2 separate regions of the Homo sapiens genome follow, and region 1 is linked to region 2. The links come from fine-mapping of genetic effects on gene expression. A gene starts in region 2. The other region holds a variant in brackets. All regions are shown on one strand. Distances are between the middles of the regions. Region 1 has its middle 45 kb from the start of GZMB. Region 2 holds the start of GZMH (granzyme H).

Region 1 (5,382 bases), 70 kb after region 2:
ATGTCCCTTATAGCAATAGAAAATTCGAGATCATGCATAGCACTTTGTTGTCTTTCTTTCTTTAGTTTCCTTTAATCTGGAGCAGTTTCTGAGTCTTTCTATGTATTTCATGGCTTTGACAGTTTTTAAGAGGACAGGCAGTTGTTTTGTAGATGGTCCTCAGTTTGGGTTTGTCTGATGTTCCACATGATCACATGCAGATTATGGACTTTTGGCAGGGATCTCACAGAAGCAATGCTGAGTTTTTGCATCACATCAGGAGGCTCTGCTGTCAACGAGTTTCATTATTGGAAGTGTCACATTCCATCAACTGGTTAAAATTAAACCTGCTTGGTTTCTCCAGTAAGTTAGTACATTTACCAATTTACCTTTTGTAATCAATTAAGTATCTTGTGGGGAGATACTCCTTAAATGTTCTCCTACTAGTTGCAATCGTCTTGCCTAAAAGAATTATTATTAGGATGACTGACAAATTATTTTCTGATTTTGTCATTCTTTCTACATTTATTATTATCTGACTTTCTTCTGTAAAGAAAAGCCTTCCCTTCTCTCCTACTTACTGTTTATACATTCATTTATTTATATCAGTGTGGACTTTGGAATTCTTACTTTATTCAATAGGTTATAATGCTATTATTTATTTTGATGCTCAAATTGTCCCGTGTTTGAGGAAGTAGTTGATTTTAATTTTCAGGTGTTTGGCTTAGACAACTGATTGAGTGAGCCTGCTTTTAACTGAAATAAGAAACCAAGGAGGAGGAGAAATATGTTTCCACTTGTTGCTTTACTTTGCATCCTTTGACTACTTGTAAACTTTAATTCACATGTATTTATCTCCTTTTGTGAATCATTTATTCATATCCTGTGTCCATTTCCCTATTTGTTTTCAGAATCTTTTATTGTTTAAGGATATCAGTTTTTCTCTGACGTGAACATTACAAATTGCTTATTGAGAGGATACAATGAACTAGAAGTTTTACCAACAATCTTATTTAACCCTCACAACAATCCTCTGACATAGTACTATTATTATTTTCATTTTATAGATGAGAAGGCAAGAGGTCTTAGAAATATTGCTCCAAATCATGGGCTAGCAACCACTGAAAGCCAGGATTTAAACCCATATCTGTGATACCAAAACTTTGATTCTTCATCTATAATTTTGCATGCTGCAGGCATGCAAAACTTTTTTAATGTTTTAAGAATGCTGGGAAATTGAATGTCATCCCCACAGCCCTTTTAAAGTTGTAGCCACAAAACCAGTTATTGTAATTACATCTTAAATGCAGATTTATTGTATCTAGCATGTCAGTACAAGTTGTATCATCATACTTATGCCATAGCAGCATTCCACATTCGTACTTGACAGTTCATTTGGGACTCAGCAAAATAAATATGTGAAGTAAGTGGGTGCTCACATTAAGGCTTGTTGAGAATGATGTGACATCTAGGAGACACCTGGTAAGGTTCATACACTTTGTGAAGATGACATGGTAGGGAAATGAAGACCACTGACTGAGAGCACAGCAACCCTGGGAGGCCTCCAAACTTAACTCCAGGAAGCACCTCAGCCTTTTATCTGGGAAACAGAAAGTTCAATAAAAATGGTCTTTGGGCAGGACGTGGTGGCTCACACCTGTAATCCCAGCACTTTGGGAGGCCAAGGCAGGTTTATTTCTTGAGCCCAGGAGCTCCAGACCAGCCTGGGAAATATGGTGAAACTCCTTCTCTACAAAAAATACAAAAATTAGGCGTGATGTTGTGCACCTGTAATCCCAGCTACTCGGGGGGCTGAGGCGGGAGGATCGCTTGATCCTCCCAGGGTGGTCGGGGTGAGCTGTGATCACGCCACTGCACTCCAGCCCGGGTGTCACAGCGAGACCCAGTTTAAAGAAAAAAATAAAAAGTCTCTGAGGCCCTTTCTGTCCCTGACTTTCTGGAATTCTCCCATTCTTCTATAATAGGCACTTCTTGGTTTCCCTCATTTTTGCTTACTTTATTTTTCTTTCTCTTTCTCCTTGACGTGTCCTCTCTCCTTAACTTCTTTTTTCTCCTCTGATGTGCCTTAAATTTGCCAGGGGCTCCCTTTGGAAAAACCCTGCCTGGCCCTATTATCCCCCTGATCAAAATGGTCACACGTTGGTGGCCTGGGGGCTGCCCTCCTTGACTCATAATGCCGGGACCCCTGATTTACACAGCAGGAGAGGGAGTGATCTGCGAACTCCTGAATTGCCGCCTTTCAGTTCCTGCGGCTGCTCTGACTGTCTGCATTGCGCCCTCTAGTGTCCAGACTGAGTTCTTTTACTGTCTAGACTGGGGAGTCCAGAGCAGATTCTTTTACCCGCCACGTGAGGGAGCAATTCAGGGAAAGTAAAACTATTAGTAAAAGACATTATTTTATTTTCAAATAATCGTAATTTTACCGAGTTCCTAGAAAAATGCACATTCTTAAAATTTATATTGTAAAACTTGTTGAATAGACGATCAATTAGAATATGGGAAGAAAGGTTTGGTTTCTAAAATATTAATAAGCATATTTGACATAGCAACCCAGGGAAAGCATCTAGTCACTTATTCCTTGTGTTCATACAGTCCTGTCCTTTACAGATCCCCAAGAGTGTGCATGTGTTTGATCTAAGTTTAGCCCCGAAATAGCTGGAAGGAGCTATCTCTAGCCCTGACATTTCCATGAAGCTCCAGATGGCCCGCTCAACTCTCCACATGTACCGACAGACAAAACAAATGCAATTGTGTGCAAAGCAGAACTCTAGATTCCTCCTCTCCCGACCCTGCTCCACCCCATTCCCCCTTGGCACCGCCAGCCACTTATT[A/C]CCATAGGCCCAAAGCCTAGGAGTCATTCTTGACCTTTCTCTTTCCCGCACCTTGCAGCCAGTTCACTGGTCATTCCTGTTAGCTCCACTTTCAAAATATATTCCAAATATAACCACTTCTTGGCACGGACACCGCTACCATCTTAGTCCAAGTCCTCATTATCTTTCTTTTGATGACAGCAGTAACATTCTAAGTGGTCTGCGTCGTTCTCCCCTCCCCTTGCCCTCACTTGCTTCACTTAAACAACCACAGCGATCTTAGAAAAATGTATCACATCTGTGTTCAGAACCCTCCAATGACTTCCTGTCTCATTTAGAATTAAACTGCAAAGTCTTTCCCATGGCCTACTCTCTGACCTTGCCCTCCTCCACTCTTCCCACCCCTCACTCCTTTCCACCTGCAGGAATGTCCTTTCTGAAATGCTCTATTCCCAGATCTTTATTTTCTCCTTTGCTTTCTTCAGGTCTCTACTCGAATGCCAACCCCTCAGAAAAGACTCTCTTAGCCACCCTGTCACGGGTAGCCACCTCCACACTCTCTGGTCCCATATCCTGATGTATTTTTCTTTCAGCATTTACCCCTGAGAGAAGATTCCCTGTCTCTGTGTGTTCATACTCTGCCCTCCCCTGACTAAGATGTAACTAAGATGTCAGATTCATGGCCAGATCATTTGTTTTGTTCCTTGCTGAATCCTCAGCTTTAAGCATATAGTGGCCATTCATTGATGGATGAAGGAATAAATAAATTATTAGTTTGAACCTTGTGAAATTGTTGACATTCTAAAAATTCTGGGCCACAAAAATAGCAATTCCAATAGTTCATCTTCATAATATAATATCGTTAGCATTTTATACCTAGGAAAACTGAAACTCAATGAGTCAAGTGACTTCCCCAAGTGAAATAAAGAAAGAATGAGAGGCAGACTGAGAGCACTTCATTTCGTTCATGCAACACTGAATTGTGTTCTGGACACTGCTAGGTGTGGGAGCCACTGAGGAGAAGGGCCTGCCCCATCTCCTAACTCAGCCACTCTGCCTTTGTGGCTAAAGGATCTCTTGCCAGCTCTGACTGGCGGAATGGGCAGGGCTACGTGTGAACCCAGAGCAGCCACCACCTCTCTGCAGAAGGGCCAGTGTCAGGGCAGTGTGGACTGATCCCCACTGCTTCTGTGACCTCTGGCACTCAGGGCTCCTGCCTGGTGGGCCTCGACCCTATTCCTTCTGTCTCAGAGGAAATGTAGAAAAATGTAGAACTGCTTCTGCATAGTGCCACTCCTCTGTCTATCCCCAATCTCCTCTTCAACATTGTGAAGCTGGAAATGACGCACATAGGGCACCCTCTTGACTGCTACTCCCCATGCATTTCTGACCCTCATAAGAGAGGCTGGATGGGAAACCACACTGATCCTCCAATACTTCTATGCTCAATAAGCCATCTGTGAGTTGGAAAGGAATTCAGAAATGGGGAAGGGGGCAGGTCGACCTATTTTGCTTTCACAGCAAAGGGTGTGTAGCATCAGGGTGACATTCAGGGCTGATTATTAGGTTGGTGCAAAAGTTATTGTGGTTTTTGCCATTACTTTTGCACCAACCTAAAAAATGTGTCAAATTTTTCTTCCCCAGACAGCTGGCCCTCTGAGTCACAGTGGGAGCAGTATGTAACAGGAGGGGAGAAGAAAATGAAAAAGCCACACAACTGTCTCTTTCTTTGAGCCCTTTTCCAAGCTCTCCTTAAATTTTCAGTTTCTCCTCTTGGTCATTCTCCCCAACAAGTGCTTTGTTTCAGAATTATTAATAACTGGAAAAGTTCTGTTTTTTTTCTCTTTAACTGGCATTTTGCTTATCCTGTGGCTTATTGAGCCCTAGGGAATTTATGCCCTATAAATAAATGACTATTATTATTATGTAGCTGTATTCAGAGCATTAGTTGAAAGGGAGAAGTGACATTTTTCTTTATTTGCTTTAGAAATGTGTTGTAGTCACAATAGCTCTCCTCCTGCCTGGGATTAATGGCATAATTATTCACACCGGGCAACAGAGATGGAATGAGTTTGAACTTGGCATGAATTAATACACCAAAATATGCCTCTTGTTCTTGCTCACTGCCTAATTAATTCTGAATTATGAAATTCTCTGTGAGCTACCCAAAAAGCATGGTCACCGGATTCTGGTGCAATTGTTCTTTCTTTGCACTAAAAATCAAGTGATTTGATAGTTATGGGCTGTTTGGAAAGAGAATGTCCATTTGAATATCCTAGGAAGGAAGGAACAGACCTCATAAGGGATTTTTCTAGAGGTTTTATAGTAAATAACCTGTGTATGATGGACATGCAAGGGCCCCCAGGGGAGACTGAGCTTTGCATGAACCAGCTTTACTGCTAGAGAAATAGAGGACTTAGGAGTACTGTGCCTTGATGTCTAGAATTTACACTATAGAAGGCCATGCCTTTGGATTAGGATATTTTGTTCAGAGGTTCCCAGTTAAATATGAATGAGTTGTCCATGGAGAATAGCACAATCACCTACCAACTCCCAACATAGGGTAAGGAGA
Region 2 (5,382 bases):
TCCATAGGAGAGAATACCTTGGGCTACGTCCTTACACACGAGGGGCCCCCCGGAGTCCCCCTGTGAACAGAGAGAGGAAAGACTGAGCTAGTGTTCCCTGGGATGGGTGGTCTCTGTTATGGATTTTGTGTGACATCAGTGCCAGGCAGGCCTTGTCACTCACCTCCCTCAGTCCTGGGTCTCCAGCATGGCCCTGGCTGTGCTTTCTGGCTCTCCCCAGACCAAGCCTTTCTCTGCAATTCTCACGGACACTTTGGTGATAAGTGACTGTCGGATGACAGATCCTTCCCCTCCAGCCACCCCAGTCCACCCAAGGAGTGGACTAAAGACTAGATTCCAGGGGGACACAGGCTGCCCAAGCTCTGGGCTGAGAGCATAAAGATCTGGCCACTGTCATACCCCAGAACTCCCTCAAGTTCCTCTCTCCCTGTGGTCTTTCTGGGTAGAGGCTGGAAACCCAACCTTGAAACCGGTCTGTGTCTTCTTTGGATCCCCCACACAAATCTCAGTGGCTCTGCTGTAATTGCCATGGAAGAGACGTTCACACTGGCAGTCCTTCTGCACTGTCAGCAACACTTCCTGCAGTGTGGTTGCTAAAGTGCTCATTGAGACATAACCCCAGCCAGCCACACTGCACAGCTGCCCTGGCTTCACCTGGGCCTTGCTGCTAGGTAGCCTGAGAGGCCGCACAGCTGTGGTCCACTTGGCCTTTCTCTCCAGCTGGTGGGGAAGAAGCAAGAAAGTCCAGGTCAGGCAATGGCCTTCTGGGCCCCGACACAGTGATGGGGCTGCACAATCTTCCCTCTCCTCTAAGGCACAGGAACTGACCAAGAGGTCAGGATGGAAAGGAGGAAAGGGCCGGCATCCCAGTGGGAGTGGAACCAACTGGACCAAGAAGAGCAAGAGTGGCAGGAGTGTGCCTCACCTGCAGTAGCATGATGTCGTTGGAGAAGTTCTTAGGATTATAGGCTGGATGGGGGATGGGTCTTTTCACAGGGATAAACTGCTGGGTCCGCTCCTGTTCCTTGATATTGTGGGCCCCCAAGGTGACATTTATGGAGCTGCACAGAGAGCAGAGTGAGGATGGGGGTGGAGTCACAGGGGATAGAGCCCAGGAGCAGTGAAGAGCAGATGACAGCTGTGGCAGGGTAGGGCTGCAGCTGAGGGGAAGTTGAAGGGACAGGAGGGCTCCAGGGCTGAGTGACTGTGCCCTCTACTTCACAAAGACATGAAGAGTAGGGCTTCTGGGGGCTCTCTCTTGCCTTCAGGAAATATCATGAAATTGCTCGAGTTTGCATTTTGATCCTTAATGCATGGATTCAACCTTTACTACTGCCTTATTGGGCCAGTGTGTGAAACCATGCCACTTGCTCTGACCTCTGACCCTCTGACCCTCTGACCCTGTCCTATTTCTCAGCCTTTCATCATCTTAGTCCTATTCCCAGGTGGCTGCTCCGATGAGCTTTCATGGGCTTGTGTTACCAGGAACTCTGGAAGCTCCCCTGGGCTGCAGTCCCCAGGAGAAAACAAGGGTCCCTGTAGGGGGAACTCAGGAGGTGAGCTGGTGCTGCTCCTTACCTTCCCTGGCAGTGAGCAGCTGTCAGCACAAAGTCCTTTCTCACTAGGATGCCGCCACACCTCTTCCGACTCTTCTCTTGCAGAAACTGAACAAAGGCCATGTAGGGGCGGGAGTGGGGCTTGGCCTCATGGCCCCCGATGATCTCCTCTGAAAGGAAAGACTGGAAGATAAAGTAGCTGGGGATGGCTGCAGTCAGGAGAGAAGGCTTAGGACGACAGTGATTGAGGGTGAAGTGTTTTGTGTGCTGCAGACAGTGAGGGAGGGGTCCTCCTGAGCTCTGCAGGCAGTACTCCTTGCAGGCAGAGCAAGCTTTTCTGAACTTTAAGTCTCAGAACCTTCTCTCAGAAAGAATGGACAGTGCTTGACTTCTGCATCCTACTGCAGAAACACACATGGAGGAAGAAAGATCTATTTTCACAGTGGTAGAGCCCCAGAGGATCCTGGACAGGACTTCCCAGGCTCCTCCTTTTTAGTGAGTCTCTCTGATTCCTCTGAGCCTCTGCTGTCCTCCTGATTGGTGCCATTTTCTAATGATCTACCCATGAGCTTCTGGAGTTGGATTTTCTAAAATTCTCATGTGCCAGGGCTGAACACATTCTAGGTTCTCAGTAAGTGTTGTTTGGTGCATAAATGAATAGCCTCCAATTAGCCTTTGGCTGAGGTTTAGTGGGGGTAGTGCTGGTGGGATTCAGGACCTCAGGGATGTTAGAGGGGGTTATCACCAGGTCAGTGGAGTAGCTGAGGGCCTGCAAAGGCAGAAGGAAGTGGAGAAATCAACTAAAAATGAATCGCAAAGCCCAGGTGGAGCCAAGGTAATGGGAGAGCTATGGACACAGTCATCTTGCCATCTCTGAGATCAGTTGCACCATGGGCTTCCCTCCTGGCAGGGGTGACTGGGTGGGGGCACTGAATAAGTGGTTCTTAAGCTGAGTCCAGTAACAACTCCTATGACTGCAACTTGGTGTCTGAGCTCCTCTTTCCTGGGTTGGAGTGTAGAGTAATAATTACTTATCTTTTTTAGCTTCACATTCCCTACCAAATGCCTTTCTAAGAACAATCCACACTCCAGGTCATAAAGGAGAGGTCTAGGGAGAGGCTAACACCCATTAAACCTTTTAGGGAACACCCTTCATTTTTCGATCTTTGCTGAGTGTCTATCTAGCCTCAGATTTATAAGTCTGGGTGTGGAATGGGAGGTGGGCTCAGATTGAGGAAAATTCCTGACCAGTGCTCATGGGTACAGGGTATCTTATAAGATGGGTTCAGGCCTCTGGAATAGGGATAGTCACTTACCTGTCCCAGCCCCAGGGGTCAGAAGAAAGGCCAACAGGAGGAGGAATGGCTGCATTTTCTCAGGAAGGCTGCCCAGGTCAGAGCTGTTGGTGTTGACTCCTTCCAGAAACAAATGCTGGAGGGAGATGAAGGAGGGATGGGTACAGTAAACTCAGAGACCTCCTAGACTTGTCCCCTTCTGGTTTTGATGGGTGTCATTATAGAAGGTGGTTTATTAAAATTATCTGGTTTGGTTTAAGTTGACATGGCACTGTCACATTTACACCCCTGCTGCTGAGTAACAAGGTGAAAGCAAGAATAAAGAACAAGGAGGTGGAGCTGTTGAAGCTGTGGCTGCAGCTAGCAGAAAGGCTGGTACTGCAGAAGCTCCTCAGTGACTGAGAACCAAGAATGTCTCCTTTTCTCAGTTCTTGGCTCTTTTTCTACTCAGATAAAATCATGAATAATTATTTAGCAAGCCAGATCCAGGGATATGAGAGACATGGCTCTTGCCCTTGAAGAATTGATGGTTAGCAAGAGTAGACTGAAAATCTGGGGTTAGAGCACAAGATGGTAAGGGCCGTGGTGGGGAAATCTGCCTGTTGGTGTGAGACGGAGGCTGGACTTGCCTTAGCAGTATGCAGAGTTGCACACACCCAACAAATACTGCAAATGGCAACCCATTCCTATCTTACCACTATCTCAGATTCATATTTTTGGGATATTTAGAATCCCCTCTTTAAATATAAATATTCTGTGACAAAGATAACTTTTTTTATTCCACAGTTCTGCACAAAAGTTCTGGACTTGATATTTATTGAACCAAAATGAGTCATCATTGGGTCCACTGAAGTGTAGTGGACTGATTGCTTTATGCTTTGGTTATTTAGCCCTCCTTAAGCTGAGGTGGGGACTGTTCCACTCCATCTATGGTGCTTATGAATGAGGAGGGGATTTCCCTTGAGAAATGCTAGTTGTTGTTGCCAGGTGATGGAAAAATGGATGCTGATCATCCTGATAATAATTGTTCACTAAGGCCGGGCGCGGTGGCTCATGCCTGTAATCCTAGCACTTTGGGAGGCCAAGACGGGTGGATCACGAGGTCAGGAGATCGAGACCATCCTGGTTAACATGGTGAAACCCCATCTCTACTAAAAATACAAAAAATTAGCCGGGCGTGGTGGCGGGCTCCTGTAGTTCCAGCTACTTGGGAGGCGGAGGCAGGAGAATGGCGTCAACCCAGGTGGAGCTTGCAGTGAGCTGAGATCGCGCCACTGCACTCCAGCCTGGGTGACAGAGCGAGACTCCATCTCAAAAACAAACAAACAAACAAACAAAAAACTGTCCACTAAGTATTCTCTCAGTTTCCAGAGAGCCATGTCTCTGATGTCCCTTGGCTCACAGTCATAGGCTGTCCATAAACAAAAATGTGTATATATACATATGTTTGTATATTTATGTATATGAATATATATAAATATATATGTATAGTTAAGTAGGAACATGTAAATGATAAAATTAAACTTACCAAAAATTCTACCACCGGAGATCATTATTAATGCTTAAGCATGTTTCCTTCTACTATTTTTCTAGGTATTTATAAGGTGCTATTCCTGCTATTACTTTAACAGAACTGGGATAGGACTTTAGGTGATAGACTTTTTTGTGATGAATTTTCCAGGTGTTCTTTGAGCTTCTTGTATTTGGATGTCTAGGTATCTAGCAAGGACAGGGGAGTTTTCTTCAATTATTTCCTCAAATAAGGTTTTCAAGCTTTTAGATTTCTCTTCTTCCTCAGGAACACCAATTATTCTTAGGTTTGACTGTTTAACATAATCCCACATTTCTTGGAGGCTTTGTTCATTTTTTAAAAATTATTTTTTCTTAGTCTTTGTTTGATTGGGTTAATTTGAAAGCATTGTCTTTGCGCTCTGAAGTTTTTTCTTCCGCTTGTTCTAGTCTAGTGTTGAAACTTTCCAGTGGATTTTGTATTTCTCTAAGCATGGCTTTCATTTCCAGAAGTTGTGATTATTTTTTCTTTATGATATCTATTTCTCTGGGGAATTTTTCACCCATATCCTATATTTATGTATATATATATTTTTTAATTTTTAAAGTTGTTTTTTCACCTTTCTCTGGTATCTCCTTGAGTAGCTTAATGATCTTCTGGATTGTTTATCTGGCAATTCAGAGATTTCTTCTTGGTTTGGATCCATTGCTGGGGAGCTAGTGTGATCTTTTGGAGGTGATATAGAACTCTGTTTTATCATATTACCAGAATTACCTTTCTAGTTCCTTATCATTTGGGTAGACTATTTCAGTGGAAAGGTCTGGAACTCAAGTCCTGCTGTTCAGATTCTATTATCCCATGGGGTGATCCTTTGATGTGGTGCTCTCCCCCTTCCCCTAGGGATGGGACTTTCTGACCACTGGACTGCATTGGCTGTTACTGCTTTTCTGGGTCTAGCCTCCCAGTGGCGCTACCAGGTTCCAGCTGGTGCTGGGGAATGTCTGCAAAGAGTCCTGTGATG

The links. PIP is the estimated chance that this variant, and not a neighbour inherited with it, causes the effect.
Region 1: its variant is fine-mapped to the expression of GZMH in whole blood (TOPMed, PIP 0.93).

The regions. Positions count from the first base shown.
Region 1 is chr14:24,676,820-24,682,201 of GRCh38, forward strand. No RefSeq gene overlaps it. Among named protein-coding and RNA genes, the nearest start is that of GZMB, 45 kb to the left of the region's middle. RefSeq lists a silencer at 2,198-2,377. The variant A/C (reference allele first, on the strand shown) is at 2,832.
Region 2 is chr14:24,606,687-24,612,068 of GRCh38, forward strand. GZMH (granzyme H) reads right to left here and starts at 2,999. Exons shown (of 5, transcript NM_033423.5): 1 at 2,873-2,999; 2 at 1,579-1,726; 3 at 926-1,061; 4 at 463-720; 5 at 1-60. The coding sequence starts at 2,927.